Regions from separate parts of the Homo sapiens genome. Here region 2 is linked to region 1. The links come from fine-mapping of genetic effects on gene expression. A gene starts in region 1. The other region holds a variant in brackets. All regions are shown on one strand. Distances are between the middles of the regions. Region 1 holds the start of PRELP (proline and arginine rich end leucine rich repeat protein). Region 2 overlaps BMNCR (bone marrow associated non-coding RNA).

The links.
Region 2: its variant is fine-mapped to the expression of PRELP in thyroid (GTEx, PIP 0.93).

What each region holds. Positions count from the first base shown.
Region 1 is chr1:203,473,216-203,478,592 of GRCh38, reverse strand. It overlaps PRELP (proline and arginine rich end leucine rich repeat protein), which reads right to left and starts at 2,787. Exons shown (of 3, transcript NM_002725.4): 1 at 2,655-2,787.
Region 2 is chr1:203,400,210-203,405,586 of GRCh38, reverse strand. It overlaps BMNCR (bone marrow associated non-coding RNA), which reads left to right. Exons shown (of 3, transcript XR_001738390.3): 3 at 210-854. It also overlaps the pseudogene LARP7P1. Among named protein-coding and RNA genes, the nearest start is that of BMNCR, 4.7 kb to the left of the region's middle. The variant C/T (reference allele first, on the strand shown) is at 2,726.

The DNA of each region.
Region 1 (5,377 bases):
TCCTTACCCAATTGTCAGAAGCAAGTGCAGTTAGCAGCTTTAAAATGCACTACAGATCAAAAAGTGCTAAAAATAAAAATAACACTATTATGGAGAGACCATCTGTCTCCCCAGTGTCTACCACAAGGCAAAGTGTAAACAGAATGAAGATTTTCTGGCCTCAGGCCACTAGTTTAGAAGAGAAAGTTTTCCATTCTGAGCGGTGGGGAAGAAACCAGGGTGAGACGACTCTTCTCTGACAGCCCGCCACCTACCATATCCTCTGCCCCATTCCCCCAGCATCTCCAAGCCTTGAAGAAAGCCTAGAAGAGTGTGTCTGATGCCTTGAGTGATTATAGATCTGAGACCCAATCCTGCAGTTCTTCATTCAGATGCTTAGCTAGGTAGGCTTAGGCAAAGCAATTGCTTTTCTGCTCTATAAAATGGGGATACTAACACCTTCTTTTCTGTTTTGAGGGTTAAATGAGTTAATACATGCAAAGTGAGTGTTTTCTGAATGTTAAGGTCTTGTTGATATTATTTCAAAGTAATGGGGTCTCCTTCCCTCCAGCCTGGCTAGAGGGCAGCCCCCATGCACTGCTCGAAGGCAGGGATCCTTGTGAGTGGGGTACCAGCTCTTCCACACAGAGCAACTTCCTCCCCTTTGTGGCTTGTGAGATCACACTTGGGTCTCAGAAACAACTAACTGAGGAGACTCTGGAAGTCCCCAGCCACCTAGGGAAAGCTTGTTCTGTCTTTCTAATTCACCAACTTCTCACCGATGCTTTCTGCAACAGGTGAGGGGACACTGGCCACAGAAGGTGCAAGTCTGCCTTCCTCAGTGGGCCATGGAGTTCCACTGCGATTCTTGACTTCTCCCAGCTTTTTGCCCCTTCCAGCCTTGAAATGCTTCACTCACATGCCCAATAAATGGGATTGCCCACTAGGGAGGTGGAGGGGGCATGAAGAAAGTGTTCAGCTCACCCTCTGTGAGAGCCCAGACAGGTGGCTGCTGGGAAGGAGGAGCAGGGACCTATAAGGGTCAGGGGAAGGGCCCAGCACATGCTCCTGGGGTCCTGGGGCAGGCAGATTAACAGGTGAGGGGAAACAGAAGCTCTGTGGAGCCATCTTGGGGGAACTTTCTTACTGGAATGTTCCTCTGTGGTATATATGGCTGCTTGTGCTTGCAAGGAGGAGAGAGGGAGACAGCTCTTCCCTGTTTACTCCCACTCCCCAAAAAAGAGGTGGCCTATTTGGGACACTCTGGTGCTCCTTTTCCAGGACACAGTCCTTCTGCCCAGCTAACACTGCCGGAGTCTTGGGCTTAAAAATTACAGCAAAGCTCTCTCTCAGGCCCCTGATTCTCGAGCCCTGGTGGACCATCAGAATCTCCTGAAGTATTAAAACAAGATTCCTGGGTCTCGATTCAGTAGATCTGCAGTGAGAGCCGACATCTGTATTTTTAGTAAGCCCTCCACACTCCTCCCTCTCCAGCCCTTAGGTGACTGTGAAGATCAGCTGTGTGTGGGACCCCTGATCTCCCTACACCCCGCCTGCCTTGGGACAGACCCTCTCTATTAATAGAGAGGAATGAGCAGGGGAGCAGGAGAGGGGCCGCCCTTCAGTTTTCCCCTCCCCAACTGCTTAAGGAACTGCTGCCTTTTTTTTTTTTTCTCCTCTGCCACAGGACCTTTTGCCAACCTAAATGGTTGGAATAATTTCAGAACGGCTTTAAAGAAAAATATTTTTCTGGCTGCCTGCAGGAAAAAAAAATAAAAAAATGAACTGTCCCCAGAGCTGGGAATTAGGACCTTCAAGGATTGGGAACTGGGTCGCTTTCTTCTTTCTTTCCAAAAGCCAAGTGGTTTGGACCAGTGAGACAGAAATTGAAAGCTGCTGAGAAGACACTGTGCAGGTTGGAAAAAGCCGTTTTTCTCTCCCTCCTACCCAGTGAAGCCCTAAATAATGAAGAAACCCTTCCAGCTCCCGCTCTTGCTTATCTCCTCCCTATTCGGCCTGGACTTGGGATGCAAGATTTTCTTCTGGCTCTGCCATCTCAGTGGGAAAACGTACTTTATCTTTGCTCTTACAGCTAGGGAGGTGTGTGTGAGAGGGCGAGAGACAAGATGCAGGGAACATGTGTGCATGCATGTGTGTGTGTGTCTGCTGGTGTCTGGTGATGATGTGGTCTAGCTCTGCATGTCAGATGCAGAGGGCAGAGGTGAATGGACAGGATGTCTTCATTTTGTATGGTCGTGTGGGGTGATGGTAGTGAACGTGCAGCCTCCGTGTGATGTGTGTGACTTCCACAATGTGTGACAATACACAAAAGGTGCAAAGAAATGGGTTCTGGAGTCCAGTTTCTATGGAAACACCTGATCTGTAGAAACACTTTGTGCAGCGTGGCTCTCTGTGCTACAACAAACATCTGCAGCAGGAAAGCTTAACTTTTGCAGTAAGCAAATATAGGGGTACAGAGTGATGAAAAGAAAAGGAAGAGGCTATAGGAAAGAAGTTAGGAAGACTAAATTTGAACTCATTTGAGAGGAGAAAGAGGTGGGAGGAAGGAAGGAGTGAGAGGATAGAGACTAGATCAATAAATGGACAGAGCTGGAGGAAACTTACTGGATGAAAGATTCTTCCCAGTCTCCTGCCCATCTCCCAACTGGGCTTACCTGCACACACCTGCCTCTCCTCTCAGCTCTGAGTTTAGTCCTCCTCTTCCACCCCCTCCCTTCGGCGGAGCTGTGGCAGCAGAGAGCCAGCTAGAAGATCTGATCTCCCAGTGGTGTGTGCGTGCTTGTGTTTGCCTGACTTTTCTTCCACCAGATCCTATTGGGGTGGGGAGGTTAGCTTGGGGGGAGGGAGGGGCAGATCATAGGGAGGGAGGGGAGGAGAGGAGGGAGGAGGGAGGGAGGGGAGGGGAGGAGAGAGGGAGGGAGCTTGGGAAAGGAGGAATGACAATAAAGTCTTTATTTGGCAGCCAAAACTCCCAAAGACTTCATCCACACACCATTCCCACTAACAGACTCATTTTTAATAACATTTCCTTCTGCTGCTGCCGCTTCTGGAGAGGGGTTGTTTGACCCATGTTTGGAAAACAAGCCAAATTAACAGAGTGAAAAGGCATGAAAAGCAACCTCTGTGTAAGCCAGGACTGGATGGCTGGGTCCAGCACTAGCCTGTTTAATTCCTCCTAACAATCGCCTTGCCTTCTGGGGCCGTTGCTCGGTAGTGTTAAATTCCTAAACCAGTGAGGGGTTTGGGATGCTTCCTCTGAGCAGTGACAGTCTTTCCCTAAGTTATCTTCTCCAGGAGGTTGCAAAGGGAGTGGAGTCTCAGGCTGGCATAGGAGATAACTTCGGTTTGGCTGCCAGGGCTGTTCTGAGAACCAGAGAGGGAGAAGTCTGGCCTGAGTTGCACAGCAAAGTTAAGGCAGAATTAAGATTTAATGTAAGACCTAAAGTCACTGTTCCTAGCTCATGTGGACAATGTAGTGGCTTCTTTCAGCTTCTCCATATCACACTTAGGTGAGATTTAGGGGCTGTGTGGTCATCACACAAAGTGATGGGAAATCCAAATTTCCCCTGTGCACATCAACACCCCAGAAGACCCAGTCAAGTAACACCACTACCTCTAACAATCCTCTAACAATGCCCCTCAATTAAGAAAGCACAACACACTTGCAGGTAAGTAGATGCCCATCAAAATTTCCTGCCATGGCCAGGCACAGTGGCTCACGCCTGTAATCCCAGTACTGTGGGAGGCAGAGGCAGGCGGATCACCTGAGGTCAGGAGTTTGAGGCCAACCTGGCCAACATGGTGAAACCCTGTCTGTACTAAAAATACAAAAAAATTAGCTGGGTGTGGTGGCGGGCATCTGTAGTCCCAGCTACTAGGGAGGCTGAGGCAGGAGAATTGCTTGAACCTGGGAGGCAAAGCTTGCAGTGAGCCAAGATCGTGCCACTGCACTCCAGCCTGGGCAACAAGAGCGTGACTCTGTCTCAAAAAATAAATAAGTAAATAAAATAAATAAATTCCTGCCATCCCAGCTGACTACTTAGAAAATGCAACGCAATTTTCTTCTCCATTATTGGTTCCATGGAGAGCTGCAGAGCCCCATGACAGGGGACTGCCTGCCTGCCCTCCGCAATATGGGGTAGAGGAGAGAACATTAAAATTAGGGTCTGCAGCCCTGGGCTCAGCCACCCACAAGCTATGGTCTTAGGTGAATCACTTGATCATGAGGACCTTCAGTTTCCTCATTTACAAAATATGGATAATATTGACCTCACAGGGTTGGGAAGATTAAATATTGTAAATGTGAGAGCACTTTATAAACTGGGAAGATATTAGGGTTTAGGAAAGGGATTGCGATGAATGGTAATTAGCCTAAGAAAAGGAGAAGGAAAAATAAAACCCAGACCTTTCTCCAACCCCCTTCCACCCCAGATCTCATGGCTTCACGCCCTGCTGGTGAGGTCTTGCTGGAAGACAGCACGGTTCCTCTCCAGGTTCACATTAACTGTGGCTCTGCCAGGCTGCTCATGTGCTTCATTTCTCATCCAGATGGGATATGGCGTCTTCTGCAGGCCGGGAACATCAGACGCCAGATTTGCTTGTTTCCCTTGGTATGGTGGGTGGTAGATGATAGAGGGCAAAAAAGACTGGCTGGGCACGGAGACTCATGTCTGTAATCCCAGCACTATGGGAGACGAAGGCAGAAGATTAATGGAGCCCAGGAGTTCGAGACCAGCCTGGGCCATATGGGGGGACCCTGTTTGTACAAATAATTTAAAAATTAGCTGGGTGTGGTGGTGTGTACCTGAAGTCCCAGCTACTTAGGAGACTGAGGTGAGAGGATTATTTGAGGCCAGGAGACCAAGGCTGTAATGAGCTATGATTACGCCAGTGCCCTCCAGCCTGGGTCACAGAGCAAGACCCTGTCTCAAAAAATAATAAGGTGAGCAAAGTACAGTGAGGTACAGGGATGATGGGTAGAGTGTCTGTGGGGATAGACAGACTGGAAGGAGTGTGGAGTATGGGCAGGGGCAGGGGTGTCACCTGTATCCATTTGTATGACAGCCATCCAAATCCCAAGAGTCTATGCTCTCGGGAATGGATGGCCAACTTCCAAGCCCTGCCTAAGCCAGTTATCTCCCTTCCTCCCTCTCCTATCTCCCGCATCCCACGCTATGCAGAGAGAATTGGAAAGAAGTATAGACATGGCCAGCAGGATATTCAGGAGTGTCCAGAATAGAGTTTGCTAATCAGTGGCTTGTGGACCTAATATGGCTTGAGTACCTAATTTTTTTTGACAGCACGTTAATTTTTTAAAAGTTTTGTGGAAATTTTAAAACGTATACATATTTACACAGTATAGTATTAATATCCCCAT
Region 2 (5,377 bases), 73 kb after region 1:
TCAATTCTCTCCTTCCTTACTTAATAAAACCACAATTTGTTACCCAGACAAAAGATGACCTTTCCTTTGCTCCCTTGCAGCTAGGAGTAGCTTCCAGTAGCAGGAGCCCCTGGAAGGTTTAGGGGAAAGTCTGGATTTCCTGATATGTACCCAACCCTTGCTTTTTGTCATTTTCTTTTGTCTCCGTCCTGCCTGGAACATGTGATCAGGAGGTGGTCATGAGGATGAAAGTCATATGTGAAGGATGATGGAACAGAGGGACTAAAGGAGCCTGCCCTGGACACCCTGATTTCCTGCTATGGGGAGTGAAAAAGAAGCCATAGTCCCATGGATTCTGTTACCAGCCACTGAGTGCAATCCTACCTGATCCCATGGTCCTCACCAAGGCTGTGTCTGCTTAGGAAATGGAGAATGGTCCCCAAACCACAGCAGCAAAAATGAGTGGAAGGGTTGAGCATTATTTCCAGCCTTGGTTGCTCTGGTGATTGGTGCCTGGGAGGGGCAGGACCTCCATCCAACAGACTGTACCAGCAGAGTCGTAAGAGGTAGGACTTTGGAGATTCAGCCGTATGTTCTATGGGTGGACTGAAGGCTGAAGGAGGAAGAGGTAGAAGTGCATTGCTACCGACCTACTCCATCCCACGTGCAGACTCCCTCGACCCCCAACCCCAGGCTGTCACCTGCTCCTATATTCATTTTCTCTGAGGTTGGAGGAAAGAGAAAGGAGACAGCAATGGCCAGACTTCCCTGGGGTTCCCAAACTGGTTAGTGTGCTCTGCTCAAGTGCTGGCTCCCCGCCCCTCTCTATGCACACACTCAGCCCATGTTCACTGATTCCCATCCTACCCTCCAGTCATTTGCCTAACTGACTTTTTTTTTTCCAGGAAACCTCAGAGATGCATTGGACTTGGTCAGCAGACTTGAGTTCTATGCCCATGCCAGTCACTGACTGGCCATGACCTGAGTTGGACAAATCATGCCCACTCTAGACTTAAGTTGTTCCTTATATGGAAAAGGAAAGGAGTGCTTTGTCAGTGGTTCCCAGATACCAATTTATAAAGATTTCACTAGTCTGTGGCAAAATAATATAACAATGGCTATGAATTACTGGGTATTTCCTTTGTGTGAAGTGGTTTTCATATATTAACTCATTTAATCTCATAACCACCTGGAAAAGTATGTATTCTTATTAACACCTTCACATGATAGATGATAAAACCAAGGCTCAGAGAGGTTAAGTAACTTACCTGAAGGTCTTCATATGGTAAGTGGTAGAGCCTGGATTTGAACTCAGGTATCCTGGTCCCAGAGTCCACGTACTAAATCACTACATTACAGCTACCCATGTGATAAGGAAAAAGTAAGGAGGAGGATGATGATGTGCATGCATATTGATACACACAGACATATAATACAGTATATTTGTGTACTGTTAGTGTAAGTTTAATACTGACTTTCTGGGGAAGGACAGGGATATATATCCTTTATGTTAAGAGTGAGAGAATAAGTCTTCCATATTTTTTACATTAAAAGGTACTTTTCTGAAATGATGACAGAAGGTGAGTATTTTATTTGCTCAACTGGCAAAATAAAACTTATCGACAACCAGTTACTTTTTACAGTATTTTACTTCCAACTTGTAATAGACCATGAAATTAAGTCTGGGAGCCCTGAGGCTACAGGGTCTTCGAAGTCCTTTCTGGCTTAAATAATGTAAGGCCTTCAACCTCCAGGTGAGGTGACTTAAGTCACACATTCTTGGAGACGTCCTCCCAGATATCAGGCACACCATCTGGGCCCCCTGGTCAGCCTAGCAGACGAAGAGCCATCACCCTGAGGGAACCTGTTTTGGTAACATGCCTGTTTAACACTGCAAGTATTTTGACCCATAAAGAAACTTTCCTGTCCCGCCATGGCCCCAGCTTTAGCTACACCCCGTCTGTACTTGTCTACCTCTTGGGATAAGTACCATATAGAGAGAGAATCTTAAATTACTCATTAGTTGGTAGAGATATTTTACTTGAAAGCAGATCCCAAACATAACCTCCTCCTGCCCAATCCTAAATCTCAGGCACCAAAGAAGACCAAGCTCTATCCTGAGTGCTACAAATGAGAAAACCAAAGGCAAAATTATGAACTATCTTGAGGATGTCTGTTCAAAGCAATTGTCCTCTACCTTATATGGATTCTGTCGGATCCTGGAGCAGATTAGAAACAGAACAGGTAGCACTGGGGGCAGTCCATTAGTGCTCTCTTTAAAACCAAGGTGGCAAACTCTTGTTTTGAAACTAACATAGAACAAGCAATTTGAGAGAAGGGAAATTGGTGTAGCCCAATGTTGTTATTTTTTTCTTATTAACAGTCTCAAAGTCCCTAGTGAAGGAGGGGAACATCCAAACAGTTAGCAGCCAGGGACATTCTTAGGAAGGACAGCGGAAGCCACAGCACTGCTTCTGCTGTGGGGTCTACATGCCTAAAACTGAGCAAAGAATTCGACTTGGTGGGCTGGACTCTGCCTCAAAAGTGAATGAAAACAAAACAAGACTTCAAGTTAGCATTTGTGGAAAGGGGAAAAAAACCATTGTCTGCCTTTCTGTCTCACGAACACAGAAACAAAACACTAATGAAGGCTCCCAATCTGGCAGAAATCTAAGGAATTAGAGGAAAAGGAACAAAAATAAACAAAAGGACACCAGACTTCAAGTTTCTCAAGCCAGATGTGACC[C/T]TGGAAACTGGTGTGATGAGGAAGAAAAACAGCTGTTGACTCAGTCATGTGATGATTCAATGATACAATTATTTCATCATCAAAAGAGGCTTTGATAACTTCGCCATTAGCAGTAAGAGTAAAAATAGAAAAAGAGGAAGGAGGAGCTCGATTTCAGCACTAATCTGATTCATTCGCTTTAAAAGACCTAGGCTTGAGGCCTGAACTGGTTATGGAATCTAGCTATTAAAAATGGTTCTATCTGGTGACAGAATTTTAAGAAATGCTGAAGTTGGCAAAGTGGATTGCTCTATTTAGCAAAATATTTTCAGCTATGGTGGTCCATTAAAACACCAAGAAAAAGAACAAAAGAACAAAAGAAACAAAAATCTACTGGATAGAGTTTGTATGAAATCCACAATCCTGCAGTTTGCAGGAGCGGGAATACACTTGCAAATCAATGTTGGAAATTTGCATTTTTCTGAGCTTTTAGTGGAATGGAGTGTTGGGGAGGGACTTTCTGCTTTTTATGGGTGGATCCAGTGAAATGATTGCTGGTCCTGATTAGAGGCCCATGGTTTCAATAATCTAGCATTCTCCCAACTGTGTCTTTAGCCTCTCCTTCTTTCTCTTCGGCCTACAAACAGGCTACAGAAAGTGCTGCCTGGGCTACACGCTTAGATGATCCCATCCTAAATACAACTTTCCATTGACTGGGGTCCCTTTCTAGCTATGGCTCTAGCAATCAGCTCTTCTTCCCAGACAAGTTGTTTGGGAGAGAAGTCCACACGCTAACCTGTTAGAACCGCCACATAAAATACATGATGCCCACTTGAACTTTAATTTCAGATAAATGACAAATAATTATTTCAGTTTATGTATGTCCCATGCAATATTTGGGACATACTTATTATACTAAAAATTTATTCATTGTTTATCTGAAATTCAAATGTCAGATAAATTGAAATTTAAGTGAACATCCTGTATTTTTATTTGCTAAATCTGACAATCTGACTCCTAGTATCCCTTCTTCACTTTCTATTTGTTGCTCAGCCCATGGAAACCTGGTTTTTGCCTCCACCTTTCATTGATACTGCTCTCCCCAGGCTCCCCAAGGACCTCTTACTGATCAAATTCACGAGGCACGTTTCCACCCTCCATGGCAGGGGCCTCTCTGGAGGACTCTGCAGGCACCGCTGGCGTCTCCGCTGTCCTGGTGAAGCTGTCTTCCCTTTTGGCTTCCATGATGCATTACACTGCTTGTTTTCTCCACCTTTCTCTGACTGCTCCTTCCCTGTTTCCTTCACGAGCTGCGCTTGTTAAGTCACCTCTTACATGTTCAATGCTACCCAGGGCACTGCCCTTTGGCCTTCCGCACTCTCTATACACAGAGCTGGATTTGCTGCTATATTTATCTCCCCACTCAGCCCCACTGGCCTCAGCTGCCCTGAGCAGCTCTGGCCTCCTCATCCATCATGCTGGGCACCAGAGGATGTCTTGCAGAGAAACCTTTCTGCCCTGGGCCTCCAAGGAGGGCTCAGCTATCAGAGAAGAGGGTCATTTTTAAAAGGGTCAGAGCACAGGACCCTCCAAGATTGATGGGCTATGAATTATGGATGTCGCAACTGTCAGTCCCAGTGCTCCAGAGCCAGAGAGGGTGTCCCTGCCTTCCGTCCCTGAGTTGGCCTCTTCTCTCCAGCATCCCCGTAGCATGTGCTCACTAAATGTGTTCCTGTATTGCTTTTTTACGTTTGTTGTCTTTTTGATGATCTTTATTTCTATGCACACACATACACGCTCAAGCACATCCCATCTGGCTGGGAGCTCTCTGAACCCTCCTCCATCACACTGTGCCCTGCTAGAGGGCAAGGACTGAAATGCCCCAGGGGAAGTGTTTGATACACAGGTGTGACTATAACAAAACAAAACACAACAAACACACACACACAACGATTTTTACCCTTTTTTTTTTTTTGAGACCAAGTCTTGCTCTCTCACCCAGGCTGGAGTGCAGTGGTGTGATCTCAGCTCACCGCAACCTCTGCCTCCCAGGTTCAAGTGATTCTCCTGCCTCAGCCTCCTGAGTAGCTGGGACTACAGGTGTGCGCCACCTCGCCCAGCTAACTTTTGTATTTTAGTAGAGATGGGGTTTCACCATGTTTCCCAGGCTGGTCTCAAACTTCTGACCTCAAGTGATCACCCACCTCGGCCTCCCAAAGTGCTGGGATTACAGGTGTGAGCCACCATGCCTGGTTGATTTTTACCCATTTTTAAAGTTGTAAGTGCTTTTGTATGCAATACTTTGGAGCAATCTCAGGAGTTGTTTATGTTGATTTGCTAGAAAGAGATACAGAATGCCAGGCTAGATTCAAAACTCCTGAGGATCTCAAGCAATAATAAGTGCACTTACAGAAATTAAAAAGAAATACCGCTGGAAACTCAAGGGCTTTTCTGGTGATCACAAAGATACTGGCAGATTTTTGTTGATAGGTAGGCCAAACTTAATCAGCTAGGGAAAAGAAAGAGGTACTAAAAGTTAATCACCAAAGCCAAAAAGATTAAACTTGTAAAGACTCAACAAGCAAGTAAACACATTAAATTTTCTGAATATGACTGAAAACAAATTATAGTTAACCTCTTAATACTTCACTGGGTATTTGAGCTGTTCTTAGG